3 linked regions of the Homo sapiens genome follow. The protein of the gene in region 1 purifies or fractionates together with the protein of each later gene. This does not show direct contact. Each region holds a gene or a part of one and is shown on either strand. Other genes may lie near its edges. The genes, in order: SULT2B1, NUDT5 and HEXA.

Region 1 (3,733 bases):
GCTACTTGGGAGGCTGAGGCAGGAGAATCGCTTGAACCCTGGAGGTGGAGGTTGCAGTGAGCCGAGATCACTCCATTGCACTCCAGCCTAGGCAACAAGAGCAAAACTCTGTCTCAAAAATAAAAAATAAAAGAAAAAACAGAAGAAAATACCAAGTGTGGCAAGGATGTTGAGAAAATGGGGCCCTTGTGCACTGTTGGTGAGCATGTAGAATGGTACAGCTGCTATGGAAAACAGTTTGGCAGTTCCTCAAAAAATTAAAGATAGAATTACCATATTAACTCAGCAGTTCCACTTCCAGGAATATGCCCAAAAGAACTAAATACTAGGTGGGGGCACTCTGACAGATATTTGTACACCAATGTTCATAGCCACATTATTTGCAATGACCAAAAGCTGAAACTATCCAAATATCTGCCGTTCATGAATGAATGGATAAACAAATTATGCTATATTCATACAATGGAATATTATTCAGCTGTAAAAAGGAAGGAAATTCGTCCGGGTGCAGTGGCTCATGCCTGTAATCCCAGCACTCTGGGAGGCCGAGGCGGGCGGATCACCTGAGGTCAGGAGTTCAAGACCAGCCTGGCCAAAATGGCCAAACCCCGTCTCTACTAAAAATACAAAAATTAGCCGGGCCTGGTGGTGCGCGCCTGTAGTCCCAGCTGCTTGGGAAGCTGAGGCATGAGAATGGCTGGAACCCAGGAGGCGGAGGTTGCAGTGAGTGGAGATTGCGCCACTGCACTCCAGCCTGGGCGACAGAGCCAGACTGTCTCAAACAAACAAACAAAAGGCCAGGCACAGTGGCTTACGCCTGTAATCCCAGCACTTTGGGAGGCTGAGGCAGGCAGATCACGAGGTGAAGAGATTGAGATCATCCTGACCAACATGGTGAAACCCTGTCTCTACTAAAAATACAAAAATTAGCTGGGCATGCTGGCGTGCGCCTGTAGTCACAGCTATTCGGGAAGCTGAGGCAGGAGAATCACTTGAACCCGGGAGGTGGAGGTTGCAGTGAGCTGAGATCGCGCCACTGCACTCCAGCCTGGAAACACAGCAAGACTCCGTCTCAAACAAACAAAAAACACCACACACAGGAATAGCTAAAATAGGGTGCAGCCACTTCCTCTAGGGCTGAAGCCAAACTCCCAAGAAAGAAAGAAATTGGGAAGAAGGACTTCCCTGCCCAACCGGCTCCCCACACAAGATTAGAGTTTCGCTGCAGAGGTATGGTCATGACCCACTGGGTGACTGAGAAGTTCACTGAAGTGCAACAGGCCACTGAAATTTGCTAGGGGGAGGGGTAAACGTCACTGCGTGTCTAGTGCAGGGCTGGCCCCTGTCCATCACAAGATCCCGCTAAGAGGAGCTCGTGAGAATCAGGAAGAGCCCCATCCTCATTCAGTGTTCCTCCAGCGCCCTCTGCTGACAAGGTTTAACACTGAGCTAGCTGGCAGAGGAGAAATGTTTACAGGGTCCAGCTCCAATATCACAAAAACGGCAGAGAGGCATGAAGTTGGAGCCACCAGCCTGTAAACTGATAACTGGTACAAGGTGGTTGTTAGAATGAAATCCAGTGAATGGATTGGATGTGGTGGCTTACGCCTGTAATCCCAGCACTTTGGGAGGCCAAGGCAGGAGGATCGCTAGAGGCCAGGAGCTCCAGACCAGCCTGGGCAACACAGTGAGACCCCATCTCTACAAAAATTTTAAAAATTAGGTGGGCGCAGGCTGGGCATGGTGGCTCATGCCTATAATCCCAGCACTTTGGGAGGCCAAGGCAGGTGGATCACCTGAGGTCAGGAGTTTGAGACCAACCTGGCCAACATGGCAAAACCCCATCTCTACTAAAAATACAAAAACTAGCCAGGCGTGGTGGCACACTTCTAGTCCCAGCTACTTGGGAGGCTGAGGCAGGAGAATTGCTTGAATCCAGGAGGCAGAGGTTTCAGTGAGCCGAGATAGAGCCACTGCACTCCAGCCTGGGCAACAGAGTGAGACTCCTTCTCAAAAAAAAAAAAAAAAAAAAAAAAGCTGGGTACATGTGGTCTAGCTACTCCAGAGGCTGAGGTGGGAGGATCACTTGAGCCTGGGAGTTGGAGGCTGAAGCTGAAGTAAGCTGTGACTGCAACAGTGCACACCAGCCCAGGTCACAGAGCGGAATCCTGTCTCAAAAAGAATTAAATGCAATGAATACTAACAGAAAGTAATTTTGAACGTAATTGTTTCTCTTCTGAACAGCCTGTGGTCTCCTGAAATTCAAAACTGTGAATTGGGTCCTTGATGAGGTCCCTTTCCACTAGGTAACATTCTGTGGCTCCCCACAGAAATAAAGAGGTGAACCTCAGCCGGGCGCAGTGGCTTACTCCTGTAATCCCAGCACTTTGGGAGGCTGAGGCAGGTGGATCACTGGAGGTCAAGAGTTCGAGACCAGCCTGGCTAACATGGTGAAATCCCATCTCTACTAAAAATACCAAAAATTAGCCAGGCGTGGTGGTGCATGCCTGTAACCCCAGCTACTAGGGAGGCTGAGGCAGGAGAATCACTTGAAACCGGGAGGCGGAGGTTGCAGTGAGCCAAGATCGCGCCATTGCACTCCAGCTTGGGCAACAAGAGCAAAACTCCGTCTCAAAAAGAAAAAAAGTGGGGGTAGGGGGGAGGGATAGCATTAGGAGATATACCTAATGTTAAATGATGAGTTAATGGGTGCAGCACACCAACATGGCACATGTATACATATGTAACTAACCTGCACGTTGTGCACATGTACCCTAAAACTTAAAGTATAATAAAAAAAGGGGTGACCCTCAAAAGTGGGCAGTGAAAAGTGAAAAGAGCAGAGATTTTTATGTCCAGACACCTGGGTTCAATTCCAGCTTTCTCCATGTATTAAAGGAGTGCCTGCTGGGCATGATGCCTCTGCTCCCAGCACCTTGGGAGGCTGAGGCAGGAGGATTGCTTGAGCCCAGGAGTTCAAGACCAGCCTGGGCAACATAGTGGGACCGTATGTCTTCTAAAAATAAAAATAAGAAATTAGCCAGGTGTGGTTGTGTGCACCTGTGGTCTCAGCTACTCGGGAGGCTGAGGCAGGAGGATCTCTTAAGCCCGGGATTTCAAGGCTGCAGTGAGCTGTGATCACACCACTGCACTCCAGCCTGGGTGACAGAGCAAGATTCTGTCCCCAAAAAAATAAATAAGTAAAGCAATTCTGGCTGTACTAATAGATCAGCCTCAGAATTTCAGCGGCTGAAGCCAAGTTTGTTTCTTTTTCCTATAAACTGTAGTTGGTGCAGGAAGGGTGGAAGGAAGTTGGTGGGGGGATATCCATGCATTCCCAGACATTTGGTTCCTTCCATCTTATGGCTCTGCCATCCCCGGGAGTCCCAGATTCTCCCCTGGAGTCTCTGTATCCAGAAGCAGAGAGGGAGTGGAGAGTCACGTGGCGTGCGTTTATGGGCCAGGCCTGGAAATAGCCGCACATCACATCGCCGCCACCTATACTTCCTTGGCCAGACCCAGTCTCTTGGCCCCACACATAGCAGCAGGGGAGAAGAGAAAAGGTCATCACGCCATATTCCCAGCAGAAAAATGAAATGGGGTTGGGTGGACAGCTCACCAGTCTCTGCCCTGCACCACTTTCCTAGCTTTGTCCCCTTGGACGAGCGACATGGTTTCTGTAAGGCTCAGTTTCTGGCTCCGAAAATGAGGTTAAGCAACCTTGCCTTCTCTG
Region 2 (3,500 bases), on another chromosome or scaffold:
TTACAGGCGTGAGCCACCACACCCAGCCTGAGTTTTTCATTATTTTATTTTATTTTATTTATTTATTTTTTGAGATGCAGTTTCACTTTTGTTGCCCAAGCTAGAGTGCAGTGGCACGATTTCAGCTCACTGCAACCTCCGCCTAACAGGGTCAAGCGATTCTCCTGCCTCAGCCTCCCGCGTAGCTGGAATACAGGTGCGTACCACCACACCTGGCTAATTTTTTGTATTTTTAGTGGAGACAGGGTTTCACCATGTTGGCCAGGCTGGTCTCGAACCCCTGACCTCAGGTGATCTGCCCGCCTCGGCCTCCCAAAGTGCTGGGGTTACAGGTGTGGGCCGCCACGCCCAGCCTTATTATATTTTTTAATTCCTTTCAGGAAAAAGAGTCTGCGTTGCTGCTCCCTTCCTCTTCCTTGGCCTCTCTGTTCACTCCTCACAGTGGCCATGGGAGTCCCCTAATGGCCACCAGTTTGCTCCTTTCTGGCCTTTCATTCCCAGGCCTCGGTGTTTTACTATGAGGGAGGAAGACAAGACAGGTGATGCTGTCAGCATCCTACGTGTGAGGAAGCAGAATATGAGCAGGCTTCCTGTGCTGCAGCCACACAGCAAGCTCCCAAGCCTAAGCCAGTTGGTCACCACCAAGTCACATCTCCTCACAGATGCTGCCCGTGCTGTGCAGAGCAGCGTGGAGATGGTCGTGAAGGCTCATGATGGATCTGGGTCTGAATAGGACGACTGGATGATGCCTTCAGAACCTGATTCATCTGCTCAGAGTTTTATTCTTTCGCCTTTTTGTTTCTATAAAAATTCCAAGCTGGGCACAGTGGCTCATGCCTGTAATCCCAGCACTTTGGGAGGCTGAGGCGGGTGAATCACTTGAGGCCAGGAGTTCGAAAGCAGCCTGGCCAACATGGTGAGACTAAATACAAATTAGCCTCTACTACAAATACAAAAATTAGCCGAGCATGGTGGTGTGTACCTGTGGTCCCAGATACTCAGGAGGCTGAGGCAGGAGAATCGTTTAAACCCAGGAGGCAGAGGTTGCAGTGAGCCAAGATCACACCACTGCACTCCAGCCTGGGCAACAGTGTGAGACTCCCATCTTCAAAAAAAAAAAAAAAAAGAGTTCCAATCCTCAGGTTTCTCTGTAAGACCACTTTTCACAGTGCTCCGATTCTCCTAACGTAGTGCAGCAGCAGGTGTGTTACAAGAATGAGGGGTTCAGCCGGGCGCAGTGGCTCACACCTGTAATCCCAGCACTTTGGGAGGCTGACGTGGGTGGATCATGAGATCAAGAATTCAAGACCAGCCTGGCTAAGATGGTGAAACCCCATCTCTACTAAAAATACAAAAAATTAGCTGGGCGTGGTGGCACGCGCCTGTAATCCCAGCTACTCTGGAGGCTGAAGCAGAGAATTGCTTAAACCTGGACGGGCGGAGGTTGCAGTGGGCCGAGATCGCACCACTGCACTCCAGCCTGGGCGACAGAGTGAGACTCCATCTCAAAAAAAAAAAAAGGAGGGTTTAAAGAACCGGATTTCCCGCTCCCATCACACCAATGATTTGGACTTGCAGGTCTCATAGATGATGGTGAAACCCCAGAAGCAGCTGCTCTCCGGGAGCTTGAAGAAGAAACTGGCTACAAAGGGGACATTGCCGAATGTTCTCCAGGTTGGTATTGCTTGAAAATTCACCAAGTGATGGATTCCTCCGTCTGGGAAGGGATTGATTATTTGGGTGTTCTTTACGCTCAGAATTCACTGAAGAGAAAGAAATCACAGATTAGGACTGGTCACCAAGTGTAAGGGAATCTCCCCTCCCAGGAGGAAACTGGAGCCAGAAGGGCCTGAAGTTGGGGGAGAATTAATGAAATTAAATTGCCTTTTGGCTGGATGTGGTGGCTCATGCCTGTAATCCCAGCACTTTGGGAGGCCGAGGCAGGTGGATCACCTGAGGTCAGGAGTTCGAGACCAGCCTGACCAACATGGTGAAACCCATCTCTACTAAAAATACAAAAATTAGCCGGGTGGCGCACACCTGTGATCCCAGCTACTCGGGAGGCTGAGGCAGGAGAATTGAACCCAGGAGGCAGAGGTTGCAGTGAGCCAAGATCACGCCAGTGCACTCCATCCTGGGCAATAAGAGCAAAGTGAAACTCTGTCTCAAAAAATCAATTGCCTTTAGGAATTTCCTACCCCCTGAGTTTTATTGCTCACCCATCTCATGCATGTGCTACCCTCATCACTGGAAGATTTTTTTGAGTTTGATGTGGTGAAGGGATTTTATGACTTGACAGTACCATCTAACCCCGCAGACCTAGCAAGCTTGACTCGAGAGCTCTGGGGAGAGTGTGAGTGCCCAGATGCTTTGCAGCCTGCAGATCTGCCTACCAAATGTGAGAACTAGTTTTCCCGCATCACCTCCACGTCAATGCTGAGCTGCGGGACGCATCTTCTTCCTAAGACCATAGTGAAACAAATGCCAAAGGGACTGACGCATCTGACTGTCCCTTCTCTCCACAGCGGTCTGTATGGACCCAGGCTTGTCAAACTGTACTATACACATCGTGACAGTCACCATTAACGGAGATGATGCCGAAAACGCAAGGCCGAAGCCAAAGCCAGGTATGTGTGTGTCGGCTGTGATGAAGGTGGTGTGGTTGCATTACGTGTCTTGGAACTTGCTGCTAGTTTGATTTATTAAAAGAATGTAGTCTTTCATGGAAAGAATCGGTCTTTCAAATAGACTTCATCAGTATTCTTGTCTCTCTTCCTAATCATGTATTTTAGCATTTTTCTTTTGCCACTTCATTCATCTTTACGCTTTCTTTGTAAAAAAATGTTAAATGACATATTTCCCTGTTTTCTATATGAAGTGTATTCCCACTTAGTAATATGAGCTGCAGGCTTAAGTAGTAAACAGTGAGAAACTTAAATCACCCTGGTTTCTGTCTTCATGTATATTTTAAGAATGGCCTAAGTTCCCCTGTAGTCCCAGCTGCTCTGGAAGGTGAGGCAGGAGGATCACTTAAGCCCAGGAGTTGGAGGAGCTATGATGGTGCCACTCTGTGACAGAATGAGACCATGTCTCTCTTAAAAAAAAAAAAATGGCCTAAGTAATTGTTAACGGGCAGCAGATTATTCACTATTTCTCTTTGCTCTATAATATTTCTTAGCAACTTTGGATTCAAAAGCTGTGATGTCTCTGTCAATTCCGTGTTGTCTCTCCCATCCTTTTAAAGGGGGTATTTATATGTGCACCACAGTAAATCAGTATCAGTGATATTCTTTAACTTCTTACCCTCTTCAGTTGTTCATATTTATGTTTCAGTATCCCACTGCAACTAATTTTAAGTCTTATTTTTTGCCGGGCGTGGTGGCTCATGCCTGTAATCCCAGCACTTTGGAAGGTTGAGGTGGGTGGATCACTTGAGGTCAGGAGCTCGAGATCAGCCTGGCCAACATGGTGAAACCCTGACTCTACTAAAAATACAAAAA
Region 3 (2,528 bases), on another chromosome or scaffold:
GACAACTGTATTTTGTGGCAAACACTGTGCTAAGTTTGTTACAAATATTGTCTCATTTAGTCTTCACCACAGCCCCATGAGACAGGTGCATTTTAGAGATAGACACTGAAGCACAGAGTTCAGGACCTTGCCCAAAGTCACTAAGAAGCAGGATTTGAACCAGGCTGACTTACAGGATGTCATGACACCTTTGCCTCTGTCAGGGATGTGCCTGTGTAAGATAGTCATTTCCCTGATTCCTTCGTTGGCTAGGTCTTGAGTACTTGGGGGACATAGCCTAGTGCAGAGCAGAGTCCTGGGCTGAGAGTCAAGCATGATGGTGTCTAAGCCTCAATTATGTCATTCACTGGGTAACTTCCAGCTGGTTCTCTAAGCATGTTGCTTACTTGGATGATAAGGGAAGCATGCCTAGAGGTCCCCTAAGGAGATTGGTCAGGTTATAGACTGAGACCCAAGGACAGGATTTCGCATCCATGTTCATGGACAGGACAGCACCTAAGTCCCCCAGTGCCACCATATTTACAGCATTTTAGAGTCAGGAACAGAGGGCTAAGTAGACCAAGAGCATTGGCTGCCTTTCAGACATCCATCTATATTCTAAAGGGATTGAGTTATTTGGGGTTAGGGTACAGAGATGGGCAGGATATAAATAGATGTCGCCAACGTTTCTGGATCTCCAAGACCTGTATCAGAATCACCTGAGGCACCTGTTCAGCTTGCAGATTCTTGCCAATACTTTGCCCCACCCCAGGTGAGAATCTCTGGAATTGAGATTCCCAGGTGCATTTGGTGTACAGTGACAGTTTGAGAGTCACCGAAATGGGGAAGGAGAGACTGTTGACTGGTGTGAAAAGTGTTGCTGGGGCCCCTTCTGAGGGGCTTATCTTGCCATTTCTTCATGTCCTCTTGCAGGCGAGGTGTCCAGGCCCAACCCCTCAATGTAGGCTTCTGTGAGCAGGAGTTTGAACAGACCTGAGCCCCAGGCACCGAGGAGGGTGCTGGCTGTAGGTGAATGGTAGTGGAGCCAGGCTTCCACTGCATCCTGGCCAGGGGACGGAGCCCCTTGCCTTCGTGCCCCTTGCCTGCGTGCCCCTGTGCTTGGAGAGAAAGGGGCCGGTGCTGGCGCTCGCATTCAATAAAGAGTAATGTGGCATTTTTCTATAATAAACATGGATTACCTGTGTTTAAAAAAAAAAGTGTGAATGGCGTTAGGGTAAGGGCACAGCCAGGCTGGAGTCAGTGTCTGCCCCTGAGGTCTTTTAAGTTGAGGGCTGGGAATGAAACCTATAGCCTTTGTGCTGTTCTGCCTTGCCTGTGAGCTATGTCACTCCCCTCCCACTCCTGACCATATTCCAGACACCTGCCCTAATCCTCAGCCTGCTCACTTCACTTCTGCATTATATCTCCAAGGCGTTGGTATATGGAAAAAGATGTAGGGGCTTGGAGGTGTTCTGGACAGTGGGGAGGGCTCCAGACCCAACCTGGTCACAGAAGAGCCTCTCCCCCATGCATACTCATCCACCTCCCTCCCCTAGAGCTATTCTCCTTTGGGTTTCTTGCTGCTTCAATTTTATACAACCATTATTTAAATATTATTAAACACATATTGTTCTCTAGGCACTGTGGTAGTGGGTTTTTTTGTTGTTTTTGTTTTTGAGACTGTCTCAAAAACTCTGTCGCCCAGGCTGACAGTGCAGTGGCACAATCTTGGCTCACTGCAGCCTCTGCCTCCTGGGTTCAAGCGATTCTCGTGCATCAGCCTCCTGAGTAACTGGAATTAATAGGCACGTGCCACCATGTCCATCTAATTCATATATATATATTTTTTTTTTCTGAGACGGAGTCTCACTGTCACACAGGCTGGAGTGCAGTGGCACGATCTCGACTCACTGCAAGCTCCACCTCCTGGGTTCACGCCATTCTCCTGCCTCAGCCTCCCCAGTAGCTGGGACTACAGGCGCCCGCCACCACGCCCGGCTAATTTTTTGTATTTTTAGTAGAGATGGGGTTTCTCCGTGTTAGCCAGGATGGTCTCGATCTCCTGACCTCGTGATCCGCCCGCCTTGGCCTCCCAAAGTGCTGGGATTACAGGCGTGAGCCACCGCGCCCGGCCGAATTCATCTATTTTTAGTAGAGATGGGGTTTCACTATATTGGCCAGGCTGGTCTTGAACTCATGACCTCAGATGTTCACTTGTCTTGGCCTCCCAAAGTGCTGGGATTAGAGGCGTGAGCCACCGCACGCGGGCCTGTGGTAAATTGTTGAATTTGAAGGACTCAGAGGCCCTGGTCAATTCCAAAATAACGTAGGCGACTTCCATCCCCCTCCTCCCAACCATTTTCAGCCCAAAGCATCTTCGCAGGGAATGGATGGCTGCGCGGAGGTGGGCGGTGGCTCTGGAGAGGGTCTTTGCAGGTGTGATTTTCTCTAGAAGGAAATGTCTCGTCGTGGACCCAGACTGCCCCCTCCTGGTTTCAGATGCAGAAGTGATACTGTAAGCCAGAGGCGGGGGCAGTAATGCATCGCAG

What was found.
Region 2: the proteins of SULT2B1 (region 1) and NUDT5 fractionate together in Homo sapiens (co-fractionation; one large-scale study listed by BioGRID). This does not show direct contact.
Region 3: the proteins of SULT2B1 (region 1) and HEXA fractionate together in Homo sapiens (co-fractionation; one large-scale study listed by BioGRID). This does not show direct contact.

The regions. Positions count from the first base shown.
Region 1 is NC_000019.10:48,583,037-48,586,769, forward strand, and holds part of SULT2B1 (sulfotransferase 2B1), read left to right. Parts: intron 1-3,733. UniProt on the Homo sapiens protein: Sulfotransferase that utilizes 3'-phospho-5'-adenylyl sulfate (PAPS) as sulfonate donor to catalyze the sulfate conjugation. Responsible for the sulfation of cholesterol.
Region 2 is NC_000010.11:12,171,892-12,175,391, reverse strand, and holds part of NUDT5 (ADP-sugar pyrophosphatase), read left to right. Parts: intron 1-1,578; coding exon 1,579-1,674; intron 1,675-2,525; coding exon 2,526-2,627; intron 2,628-3,500. UniProt on the Homo sapiens protein: Enzyme that can either act as an ADP-sugar pyrophosphatase in absence of diphosphate or catalyze the synthesis of ATP in presence of diphosphate.
Region 3 is NC_000015.10:72,342,525-72,345,052, reverse strand, and holds part of HEXA (beta-hexosaminidase subunit alpha isoform 2 preproprotein), read left to right. Parts: intron 1-912; coding exon 913-976; 3' UTR 977-2,528. UniProt on the Homo sapiens protein: Hydrolyzes the non-reducing end N-acetyl-D-hexosamine and/or sulfated N-acetyl-D-hexosamine of glycoconjugates, such as the oligosaccharide moieties from proteins and neutral glycolipids, or from certain mucopolysaccharides.